Linked DNA regions of Homo sapiens. The protein of the gene in region 1 purifies or fractionates together with the protein of each later gene. This does not show direct contact. Each region holds a gene or a part of one and is shown on either strand. Other genes may lie near its edges.

What was found.
Region 2: the proteins of NET1 (region 1) and HEATR1 purify together in Homo sapiens (affinity purification with mass spectrometry; one large-scale study listed by BioGRID and IntAct). This does not show direct contact.
Region 3: the proteins of NET1 (region 1) and ABCD3 purify together in Homo sapiens (affinity purification with mass spectrometry, with the first as the bait; one large-scale study listed by BioGRID). This does not show direct contact.

What each region holds. Positions count from the first base shown.
Region 1 is NC_000010.11:5,418,685-5,422,990, forward strand, and holds part of NET1 (neuroepithelial cell-transforming gene 1 protein), read left to right. Parts: intron 1-4,306. UniProt on the Homo sapiens protein: Acts as a guanine nucleotide exchange factor (GEF) for RhoA GTPase. May be involved in activation of the SAPK/JNK pathway Stimulates genotoxic stress-induced RHOB activity in breast cancer cells leading to their cell death.
Region 2 is NC_000001.11:236,594,071-236,598,376, forward strand, and holds part of HEATR1 (HEAT repeat-containing protein 1), read right to left. Parts: intron 3,910-4,306; coding exon 3,808-3,909; intron 2,907-3,807; coding exon 2,766-2,906; intron 1,975-2,765; coding exon 1,763-1,974; intron 1,604-1,762; coding exon 1,470-1,603; intron 45-1,469; coding exon 1-44. UniProt on the Homo sapiens protein: Ribosome biogenesis factor; required for recruitment of Myc to nucleoli. Involved in nucleolar processing of pre-18S ribosomal RNA. Required for optimal pre-ribosomal RNA transcription by RNA polymerase I.
Region 3 is NC_000001.11:94,484,029-94,488,334, reverse strand, and holds part of ABCD3 (ATP-binding cassette sub-family D member 3), read right to left. Parts: intron 794-4,306; coding exon 724-793; intron 642-723; coding exon 544-641; intron 444-543; coding exon 352-443; intron 1-351. UniProt on the Homo sapiens protein: Broad substrate specificity ATP-dependent transporter of the ATP-binding cassette (ABC) family that catalyzes the transport of long-chain fatty acids (LCFA)-CoA, dicarboxylic acids-CoA, long-branched-chain fatty acids-CoA and bile acids from the cytosol to the peroxisome lumen for beta-oxydation.

The sequences.
Region 1 (4,306 bases):
CTGAGTAATCTGCTCAGATTAGTCTGCATGCTTTAGGTTTAGTTGGCCCTTTTTGTTTCCAGTGTCATGATTATAGATTAAGTTACTGATTTGAGATCTTTTTCTTAATATAGGGATACAGCTATAAATTTCCCTCTGAGCATTGCTTTAGCTGCATCTCATAAATTTTGATATATTGTGTCTTCACTATCATTAATCTCAAATTCTGATTTCTTTTTGACTTCTTTGAGCCATTAGTTATTTAGGAATGAATTGTTTAATTTCCACATAATTGTGACTTTCACAAATTTTTTCTAATTTCATTACATTGCAGCTGGAAAATACACTTTGTATTATGTATTATTTCTATCCTTTTACATTTATTGAGATTGTGCTGTTTTTATATGCACATATGTTTGTAATTGTATCTTCCTGATGGATCAATCTGTTTATCACTATAAAATATCCCTCTTTGGTAACATTTTTTTCTTTGAAAGGCCATTTTGTTTGATGTTAATATAGCTACTCTAGCTTTCTTGTGGCTTGCTGTTTGCATGATACGTGTTTATCCCTTTATTTTCAAGCTGTTTATATCTGTGAAACTAAAGTGTGTCTCCTGTGGACAGCATATAGTTGGATCTTGGTTGGTTGGTTGGTTGGTTGGTTGGTTGGTTGGTTGGTTTTGATCCTGTCTGGCTGTCCATTTCTTTTGATTGGGTTGTTTACTCCAATCACATTTAACGTTATTTATTGATATAGTTGGATTTATGTCTGCCATTTTGTCGTGTTATATATGTCTTTTGTTTCTCTATTCCTCCTTTATTGCTTTCTTTTGCATTAAGTGAGAATTTTCTAATTTATAGCATTTGAATTTCTTTACTGATTTTTTTCATTGACACTGCTTTTACTAGGCTTTTTTGGGTTTTGTATGTGAACTCAGATTACCGTCTGTGGTCACTGGCTTTCAGCCAGAAATTCTTATGGTATTTCTTGTAAGGCAAGTCCGCTACCAACAAATTCTCTGTTTGTTTTTTTTCTTTGTTTTGTTGTTGTTGTTGTTGTTGTTGTTGTTTTTATGGGAATGTCTTTGTTTCTCCTTCATTCTCGAAAGATAATTTTGATAGTATAGGATTCTTTGCTGAAATTTTCTTTTTCTTTGAGCACTTTGAATGTGTTATCACACTGCTTCTGTCTTCCATTGTTTCTGTTAAGAAGTCAGAATCTTTTTGGGGTTCCTTGTAAATAACAAGTGTTTTTTTCTCTTGCTGCTTTTAAGATTTTCTTATCTTTAACTTTTGCCATTTTTACTATGATGTGTCTGTCTGTGGATATCTTTGTGTTATCTTACTTGAAGTTTATTGAGCTTTTTCTGAATGTGTAGGTGGTTGTTTTTCAATAAATTTGGAGAAGCTTCAGCCATTGTTTCTCTGAAGTTTTTTTCTGCTCTTTTCTCTTTTCCTCTCTTTCTGATATTCCCATTATGTGTATTTGAAGGGAAATATAGCAAATAAAACAAAATTTTAATGCAAATATTTAAACCAAGCAGTTCTACCCACAGAAATTTATCTTAAAGTAATGGGCAAGTATACATGGATGTATGTACAAGAAAGTATATCCTAGCACATTTGTGTAGTAGAAAGGTTAGAAAAAACAGGAGGAGGAAGCTAAATACATTATGATATTCTGTACAGTGAGATATTATAATATACAATTTTTATAACTCAGGTGGAATATATTTGGTATGTTGTATAAGATGTATTTGGGATTTTAGGTTGTTTGTTGATACATCTCCTCTATACACCTGTGCAAGTTTCTCTGGGGCAGCAGTTATGTTTTCTATGTAGATATTCCCTACAATATGACAGGCCTCTTAACGTCTTTCTCCTCACCTCCCAGTTCTGGGTAGTAGGCAAAGGTCTTTCTTTTTTATTTTATTTTTTTATTTATTTTTGAGATGGAGTCTTGCTCTGTCGCCAGGCTGGAGTGCAGTGGCGCGATCTCGGCTCACTGTAGCCTCCGACTCCCTGGTTCAAGTGATCCTCCTTCCTCAGCCTCCCGAGTAACTGGGATTACAGGCAAGCGCCACCACGCCCAGCTAATTTTTGTATTTTTAGTAGAGACGGGGTTTCACCATGTTGGCCAGGATGGTTTTGATCTCCTGACCTCGTGAACCGCCCACCTTGACCTCCCAAAGTGCTGGGATTACAAGTATGAGTCACTGTGCCCGGCCAGCAAGGGTCTTTCTAAAGAACCCTAGGTTATACTACATGATTGAGAGCTCAGAACGAGGACTGCTTTTCTGGCCTAGTTTTTTTGATACCAAGTCTGTTCTGGCCTCAGCTTTGATTTACCTAATTATTTTCTGTCTTCTCCTTTGAGAATGTATATTCTTTTAACATTCTTTTAGACTAGAACCCATAGACAAAGAGTAACGTTTAAAGATTTTAGGCATTAAAAGCAGTCAGACTTCCTAGGTTCAAATTCTGGCTCTTAAGGACCTTGGGCAAGTTACTTAGTCTCTAAATCTCACTTCATAGTACCTATGTCTAAGGTCCTGAAAATTGGACACAAGTAATGTTTAAATAATTTTATTTCTGTCTTTCGGGGCCTTAGGGAAAGCCATAGAACTTTACATATCACCCATATGGCAGAAATATAAATACATACTGATCCTTTTAAGGATTTTATATTTTCCTTTTTTGCAGATTTGAAATAATGCTGTCCATTGGTAGAAAAATAATAGTATGACCTATGATCTACCAACAGTGATAAGGCTTACTCTTTGAATTTTGTTTTTCCAGTAAAATTAATTGATGGATTTGTACAGTGGATATCCAGTTAAAGGTATAGCCTTAAATCAATTCTTGACAACCCAGGATCTTTATTATTAGTAGTAGTAGTTGCCAAAAATAAAAGGCATGCTCACAGAAGCTTGTAAGGCCATGTGGTCCCAAATAAGTTGACTATGTTTTTAAATAGTTTATTGAGATATGATTTGTATATCATAACATTCACCCTTTGTAGGTGAACAATTCAGTAATTATCAGTAAATTTATAGAGTTGTGCAGTCATTACCACAATCCATTGTTAGAACATTTCATCACCCCAAATATCCCTGCTCCCACCCCAGCCCTAGGCAGCCACTGATCTGCTTTCTAGCTCTATAAATTTCTATTTTCAGGACATACAAGTGGAATCATACAATGTGTAGTCTTTCTGCTTCTGCCTTCTTTCACTTACATCAGTATTTCATTTTATTGCCAAACCATATTCCATTATATGAATATACTACATTTTGTCAACTCCATTTACCAGCTGTTGTACATTTGATTTGTTTCCAGTTTGGTGCTTTTATGGATAATGCTGCTATGAACATTTGCATGTAAGTCTTAGTGTAGGCTGGGCGCGGTGGCTCACGCCTATAATCCCAGCACTTTGGGAGGCCGAGGCGGGTGGATCACCTGAGGTCAGGAGTTCGAGACCAGCCTGGTCAACATGGCCTGTCTCTACTAAAAATATAAAATTTAGCTGGGCATGGTGGCGTGCCCCTGTAATCCTAGCTACTCGGGAGATTGAGGCAGGAGAATCGCTTGAACCCTGGAGGCGGAGGTTGTAGTGAGCCGAGATCGTACCACTGCACTCCAGCCTGGGTGACAGAGCAAAACTCCGTCTCAAAAAAAAAAAAAGTCTTTGTGTAGACATACGTTTTCACTCCTCTTGGGTAAATTCTTGGGGGTGGAATTATCAGGTCCTACGGTAAACTTACCACTAACATCTTAAGGAATTGCCACACTGTTTCCAAAGAGTACTGGATTGTTAATGATGGAAGCCTTCAGAATTTCTCTTTCCTTCTGTTACTTGCTGTTGTCATTATCCCCTGTTCCCTCTTCCCTGAATTTGCTGCTGTGGGCAAGGCCTGAGAATTAATGCAGGACATTAGGATGTCTGGGGTGCTTTGGGGGTGGTGTTTGCTGGTTTCTAGATGCTCAACTGTGTTCTAGACAAGATATTCCAAGATGTATGTATTAGTTGAGACTCTCATGCAGATGAGAAAACCCTAGTATGATAGGAGACATAGTCTACATGATTGTCAGAAGTGGAAGAAGAGACAACTCCTTAATAGCAAAGATGCTGAACAGCCAAAACAGTAGTGGATGTCTACTACATCAGATATTTGACCCAAATAAATGAATTGTTTCTATAATAATTTAGTTTGTTTTTGCCTGATTTGCAAAGAAATTGAGAACCTCAGTTGCTTGGCACACCCCAAATGTAAAAAGTGTTAACTGCAGAGGATAAATTATACCATTCTTTTTACATGTATGGT
Region 2 (4,306 bases), on another chromosome or scaffold:
GTGTCTCTTGTAGATTTGACCATCCATTCCTTCAGTTTCTTCTCCTTAATATGTAAAAATTAAAATTGTGTTGGGAAAAATTTATTTTGCAAGCTAACATTATTAAATTCACTTATAGCAGAAAATCGTTCTCAGAATAAAACACACACACTGATATCCAGCTTTTTATCTATTTGCACAAGTGCATTCCACTTATTTAGTCATTTATATTTTTTAAAGCTCTTTTGTATAGATCACCTTCATTTTTCTTTTATCTAAAATTCTCTATTTTTAACAAGTACTATCATGCTTATAACAATAACAAAACAAAAGTCCAAAATTAGTCTTTCCCCAGGTCACATTACAAATTAGTTGTGATGGTGCCAATCAACTATCTCTGAAAAGAGGTTAAACTTTTATCTCAGTACCCACCCCCTTACTGAACCAAAAGCTGTCATCTATTTCAGATTTATAATAAACATATGAATCTGATCTTAGCCCTTGCTTTCAAAGACTGGGACATTACTCATTACCTTCAGAATAGGAAGAATACATTTTCATTTTGCTAGTCACTTTTCTAAAATGCATGTTCAAACCAAGATTTGGTTACAAAAACCTCATTTTTCAGTAGACTGACATAAGTTTAGAGAAGTCTTTCTTAGTATTCTCCAAGTAGCAACAGAACCAAATGTTTCTTCCTAGCCTTTCTGTATTTATTAAAAGACATAATGCAAATAATCACTTTCTAATTATTATTATTATTTTTGAGATAGGGTCTCACTCTGTCGCCCAGGCTGAACTGCAGTGGCACAAACACAGTTCCCTGTAGCCTCGAACTCCCTGGACTCAGGTGATCCTCCCACCTCAGTCTCCCGAGCAGCTGGGACCACAGTTGCATGTCACCATGCCCGGTTAATTTTTGTATATTTTTGTAGAGACGGGGTTTTGCCATGATCTGCCCATCTCAGTTTCTCAAAGTGCTAGAATTATAGGTTTGAGCCACCTGGCCCTCTAATTATTACTTTTTGCTTTTTGCTTTGTTTCATAATTTGGATTTTTATGTATAAAAATTTTCTTGGTCTTATATTTTTAATTACTCTAGGGAAAAAACTTTTTTGGCAACTGGATGAGATATTCATTATAAATGAATCACTAAAGTTCATTAAATACCTAAATGAGAAGGCAAAGGTTTACTCAGTAATAAATTTTAAAAGTATTCCAGTCTTTTTCATGTAGAGACTATTTAAGTATTTAAGAACACAGATCTTAAAAAAAGTAAAATTCTAAGAAATTACTCAATTAACAATGATCTTTCTTCAACCAACCTGCTCCCCACCCCAGATGTTTCTCACTTAAGAAATAGACAAGTTACACAAGAACAACTGGAAAACAGAAATTTTAAATATTTTGAAGCTGTTAACCAGGATATGGTTACTATTTTAAGATCAAATCTTAGAAAATTTCTGGACAAAAAATATAAAACCACACACCTGTAACATGATGAATGATGGAGACGACCAGATGGGGAAGCATGTAATGCAGAAGAGGACTGACATCGTAAGTTTCAGAAATCCCATGAAGTATTGTAATAAGATCAGGAACATTACATAAGTGAGGGAATGGCCTTTGAAGAAGCAAAAGTACATATCGTGTTGACTTTACAAGTTAGACAATGAGTAACAATATAAGAAAATATATAATCACTTATCTTACAAAAAAAAATTATTCAAAATAATTTTATTCACCTCTGACTAGCACCATTTCTCAATTCAATTGTACATACTTTTTCCCAAGGCTCTCTGGCTTCTGTCTCTGCAGGAGCACTATCAAGCAACTTAACCCATCCTTGATCAAAGAGGGAATCTTGGTCAATGTTTTGATGATCTGTGATGCCAATGAATTCACAAAGGTATTTTCCATGGTCACTTTCACAGAAATCTGACATATTATCATGTATGTTGCAGCTCTGTAATCTGGTAAAGATGATTTCAATCCCTAAATATTTTTTAAATATAAGGAAAAATGATAAACCATATTATTTTCTGCTACTTTAAATGTTAATCTGACAAATTAGAAATGTCATAGAGATTAATACAACCTAATGCATAGTCAATCACTCTTCAGACATAAACAATAAAGGAGCTGACCCCTTTTTCAGAGTGGATACAGAGATGAGACAAGTCTGTTGAACGAGACAAAGGATCTCAGAAAATTTCCCAACTCAAACATCTACCACATGTCCTGACAGGAGCCAGTAAGCTCTTCTTTTATACATAAAATCCTACTTATAGTAGGGAGACCTCAATCAGATCACTAATGGAAGAAACAAGTCTGATGAAAGGTCACAAGTTGGGACACTGGTGGGAAGTGAAAGCAGTACCTCCACAGGGCACCTGGGAAGGCAGCAGGCAAGAAGGCACTTGGGAAGGAGAAACGCTGAGAGGCAGGAGCCAGTGCACAAAGAATACTGAGAGGTTGCTTACGCCTCAAAGAGACTGTCTGCTCCGTCCTCCTTCCAGTGAGGTACAAAGACTGCTATGGAAATCAATCTAGGAGATGGCCGCAGGACCAGACAGCCAATATTTATTCTTAAGAGTCCTAATTAAGGTCCCAGGCCAGTGAGTTTCTAATAAAAAAGTGTCATATTTTCAACCTAAAGGCTAAATCTCAGCTATCATCTGAAATAAACTGTCAATTTAAAAACACTTAAATCTAAAAAAACTTTCGAAAGCAAGAAAATTCCTTTAAGTACAAAATAATCTACTTAACACATCAGCAGTGCCAACCTTTTGGATATAGGGAAATAGTTTGGCGATGATATTGTCTGATACGTCCTCTGCAGCTACCAGCGCCGACACTATGGTAGAAGCATAGAAAGCCAAGAGCACCCTCAACTGAGCTGAGCTGCCCGGGTACTCAGCAAAAACCTGAAACAAGGAACACAAACAAAACACATTTAACAGTGAAAGGGAGGTAGAAGGATTGCTTGAGGCCAGGAGTTCAAGGCTGAGATTTCAATGAACTATGATGGCACCACTGTACTCTAGCCTGGGCGACAAAGCAAGTCCATGTCTCCAAAAAAAAAAAAAGTGAAAGGCCAAATAAATATTTACAGCTCTCCTGAATTACCATATGCAACAATGAATACACAATGTGACAACAATTAACTGCCTAATGATATTCCTAACATTTTTATTTAAAAAAAAATTTTTTTTTTTTTTTTTTGAGATGGAGTCTCTGTCGCCCAGGTTGCAGTACAGTGGCATGATCTTGGGTCACTGCAACCTCCGCCTCCCAGGTTCAAGCGATTTTCCTGCCTCAGCCTCCCGAGCAGCTGGAATTACAGGCATGCCCCACCATGCCCAGTTTATTTTCGTATTTTTAGTAGAGACGGTGTTTCACCATGTTGGCCAGGCTGGTCTCAAACTCCTGACTTCAAGTGATCCGCCTGCCTTGGCCTCCCAAAGTGTTGGGATTACAGGCGTGAGCCACCGCACCTGGCCTTAAAATTTTTTAAACAGCTTTCCCAGGTTGAATATTCCCGACATTTCTAGACACTCTCTTTGAATAGTCACTGTAACTAGAATCTGGCAAGGAATAGACATTTATTTTTGTAGAAAAACACCTTTGGTGATAAAAGACTGATTCTTAAAAAAAAAAAAAAAGATACGGACTCTCAAACTGCTCCTGCTTCAAAACACCAGACCATTTAACAAAATAAATTTATCCAAAGTATCATTGTTATTAGGGAATGTTTTAGTATGTTTTCTTCATTCAAAGCAAGCAATCTTTTCATAAAATTATATACTCATGAAACAGACTGCTCACCTTCACAGATTTTGTCACCAAACTGCAAATGAAATCCATGAATCCAAGATCTTTGTAGCAGTGGGTAATCAAAGTTCCTTTAGCTAACGGCACTCCAGATTGCTGTTATTGATGGAAAGAACAAACTACTAGCAACATTCATCAACTGATCCTTATTTTAAAGCATTTACCCTAGTAATGTCTTCATACTGCTACAATTCATAAATAAAAAATATAATCTCTCCTTATAACTGGTGGTGGTGATGAAATTAACACATAAAATCATGTAAACTTAGAAATTCAAAAGAGAAGGTCAGCAATGAGGGCAGAGGTATTTAGTGAAAGATGTTTGCTTATCGTATGTCACATTTTGAAAGGTATTTATCAAAATCTGGATTCTCTAGATTCTTAGTAACTTTACTGGTTCGATTTGGTTTCTGAGCCACTATGATACGCTTCTGTCATTGCTTTACAATAACACTAAGAACAGAAATAGACTAGGAAACTGCACAACTTATAC
Region 3 (4,306 bases), on another chromosome or scaffold:
GAAAAAAAGGTATGGTAGAGGACAAGAAAATTTAAATGAGAAAATTCTATTCATAAACATAGTTTTCTGTGAATTAAGACTGCCATGATTCAACATTTCCCAACTTAGCAAATACGTGTCCATGGAGCAAACAACTTGACAGCCTCTAATCTACTGTACTGCGCAAACCAGCTGTCCTCAAGAAACATGAAAAGTTCACCATCAGAAAAATCTTCCTTAATTTTCTATCAAAACCACCTTCCTGGGCTAGGAAATGTTGACCCCTTATCTTAATCTCAACTGATACAATCATTAAGGATAATATATTTTTAAAAATTATTTTCTGCAACAGCTCATTATTACTAATCTTACCCGGCCAATCTAGTCATTTCACGCCCAGCCAAAACTATTCGACCCAGAGCTTGAGACATTCGCAAAAGCATTCTTCCACTTTGGTAGTAATCCTTAAATAGAAATAAATATTAGTTTTTACTTATAGTTCTATGACTAAAAATTTGGCTTTATTTTTACTGTTACATTTTCATTGTATTATCATCAGTTTACCTCTAGAAGTTCCGAATGTGTACTCTTGAGATGTCGAGGATGAGACAAATCTAAGAAAGGGCGACTGACAACTAGGTAACCAACAACAGTGGCAAGGTCTGAAACCAAACAGGTAAGATTTAAAACAGTAACAGTATTTCACCTTTTCCACAAATCTCATCTCTTTCAAAATATACTTACATTTGGCAATAATACTATCAATGAAGCCCATTGAAAACCGAAACAAAATGAAATTATGTAGGTGTTCCACCTGGCAGAAAACAAAAACAAAAAACCATCTTTTTCTCTGTATAAAAAACTGAATCTACTATAAGGATAAAACAAACTGTATAGTTCATTTATTCAACAAATATTTACTGAGTGCCCGTGATTTCTGTTTATATTCTGTTTATATTGTACATCACACCACCGAGGACAATGCTCTTCACAGAGCGGGTGCCAAACAAACACTTCATGAAACCATTTTTATGCAAACAGCATGGAAATTACATAAACAATTTTAACAATGCTGTTTCTCTTGCATGCAATAGCACAATGCTATTGTAGTCACCATGCTTTTGGATACACATATCCCAAAAGAGGACAACAACGAAAGCAAAAAGAACAGAGATTAACTAGTTTGAGTGAAACACTAGCTGTCCGGATTGGCACTGAATGCTTTGCTTTCAGTGGAGACACATGGTCTGTGCTTTATCTAAGAATTGTATTACACCCAATCTGAACTGAGTGCTAATGTAAATCAGTGCCACACAGCCTCAGTTTTAGCTTTAACATGAGCACGCATTGTCTTAAAACTACAAGTCTAAAACTGCTTTTTTATTCTGGAGTTGTAGTGTTCTCAAACTGTCCATCTACCAGATTATTCAAGGTCCTGCATGATCTGGCACTGAGCTCTATTTTTAAGGTCATATGCTTCTACTTTGCTCCTCCTCACCAAGCTCCAGAAATAACGGTTTCTCAAACATGTACCTTCTTAAGGATTTCCTCTTGCTCTTCTCACTGCCAGGAATACATTCTTCTAAGGTATCTATATTTTGTGACTCCTTCACTTTCATGTGGATTTCTGACTAAATGTCACCTCCTCAAGAAAGATCTTGGCCATTCCAGCTAAAGTAGCTGGGCAATAGCCCCCTTCATATCTATCCCTTTATCCTGCTTCATTTTTGGCCACCGAATTCATTACTACCTGAAATTATACAGAACATCTAGTTGTTTATTTATTGTCTGCTCCACTAAAATGTGGCTTCCTGAGTACAGGGTAGCTTGTTAACAACTTGGTATCTTCTGCAACTAGACAATCTCTGGAACATTTATTCAATGACTACCATGTGTCAGACACTGTGCTCAAGCTGGAGATACAATGAATAGAACAGAGAAGGTCCCTGAATTTATGGAGTTTACATTCTAATGAAAGAGCATAACTAGTAAACAAGATAATTAGAGACTGTAATACAGTCATCCCTCGGTATCCAAAGGGGATGGGATTGGTTCCAGGACCTTCTGGATACCAAAATCCATGGATGCTCAAGTCCCTGATGAAAAATGGCATAGTATTTGCATATACCTGAGTACGACATCCCATACACTTTATTTACTTTTTGAGACAGAGTCTCACTCTGTCGCCAAGGCTGGAGTGCAGTGGTGCCATCTTGGCTCAATGCAACCTCCGCCTCCTGGGTTCCAGTGATTCTCCTGCCTCAGCCTCCCGAGTAGCTGGGATTATAGGCCCCCGCCACAACAACCGGCTAATTTTTGTATTTTTAGTAGAGATGGGGTTTTGCCATGTTGGTCAGGCTGGTCTCGAACTCCTGACCTCAACTGATCTGCCCGCCTCAGCCTCCCAAAGTGCTGGGATTACAGGGGTGAGCCACCGCAACTGGCTCATCCCAAACACTTTAAGTCATCTCTAAATTACTTATAAAACTTAATACAATGTAAATAGCTATTACACTAATGTCTGTATTGTTCAGAGAATAATGACAAGAAAAAAATATGTGTACATAAGTACAGACACAATTTCTTTTTCTGAATATTTTCAATCTGTGTGGTTGAATCCATGGATTTGGAACCCACAGATGCAGAGGGTTGACTGCAAATATATATATACTTTTAAGGAAAGATGATGATTAAAACAAGAAGTAACTGTTGGAGGCCATTTCAAATAGGCTGATCAGAGAAGACAAAGCTTCAATAAGGTGTTAACATTTGGGCTGAAAATCTAAAGGATGAGAATAAGCAAGCCGTGTGGAGAGCAAACTGGTGAACTGCAGGCCCCTGAAAAATTACCTTAAATGCATTCTACCAGTGAGCACTCTAAAAGTTCTGCCATGTTAAATACCGACGAGGCAAAAATCCAATTTCTGAAATAATTTAAAATGACAATTTCTTTAACCTCTTTAACTCATCTAAAATATACATTTAATTTCACAAACTTCAGACTTCCACTAAAATGTAAGCTCCTTAAAGGCAAGATTTTATCCATCATGTCCACCACCATCATCCTTAGCACCTGGAGTGAGCACAGGCAACTAGACGGCATTCAATATCTTTTGAATAAATAATGGAATAAAAGTACTTGAATTCAAATTTTCCAAGTGGCAATTAAATAAAAACTGAAGTAAAGCTTTCACAAGAAACAATGCTTATATTCTTTAAAACAAAAAGCCAGTAAACTCTGACCCATAGTCCAAATCTAGCCTGCTACTTGTTTTTTTAAGTAAAGTTTTATTAGAACATAGCCACACCCACTCATTCATGTATTATATATAGCTACTCTTGAGTAGCGGAGCTGAATAGTTGCAAGACACTGTGTGGTATGAAAAGCCTAAAATATATACATACTATCTTGCCCTTTATGGAAAAAGTTTGCTGACTCTTGCTTTACATAATAATCTTTATTGTATTTTCATGAATGCTTCAGGAACAAATTCTTTCTGTGGGAATCACTAAATAAGGCTCCTAAGCAACCTCTGTAAAAATACACTTAATTTTTTTTTTATGTTTTTGATTATACTTTAAGTTCTAGGGTACATGTGCACAACGTGCAGGTTTGTTACATATGCATGCATTTGCCATGTTGGTGTGCTGCACTCATTAAGTCGTCATTTACATTAGGTATATCTCCTAATGCTATCCCTCCCCCAGGCCCCCACCCCACAACAGGCCCCGGTGTGTGGTGTTCCCCACCCTGGGTCCAGGTGTTCTCATTGTTCAATTCCCACCTATGAGTGAGAACATGCAGTGTTTGGTTTTCCGTCCTTGCAACAGTTTGCTCAGAATGATGGTTGCCAGCTGCATCCATGTCCCCACAAAGGACATGAACTCATAATTTTTATGGCTGCATAGTATTCCATGGTGTATATGTGCCACATTTTCTTTGTCCAGTCTATCACTGATGGACATTCGGGTTGGTTCCAAGTCTTTGCTATTGTGAATAGTGCCACAATAAACGTATGTGTGCATGTGTCTTTATAGCAGCATGATTATAATCCTTTGGGTATATACCCAGTAATGGGATGGTTGGGTCAAATGGTGTTTCTAGTTCTAGATCCCTGAGGAATTGCCACACTGTCTTCCACAATGGTTGAACTAGTTTACAGTCCCACCAACAGTGTAAAAGTGTTCCTATTTCTCCACATCCTCTCCAGCACGTTGTTTCCTGACTTTTCAATGATCGCCATTCTAACTGGTGTGAGATAGTGTCTCACTGTGGTTTTGATTTGCATTTCTCTGATGGCCAGCGATGATGAGCATTTTTTCACGT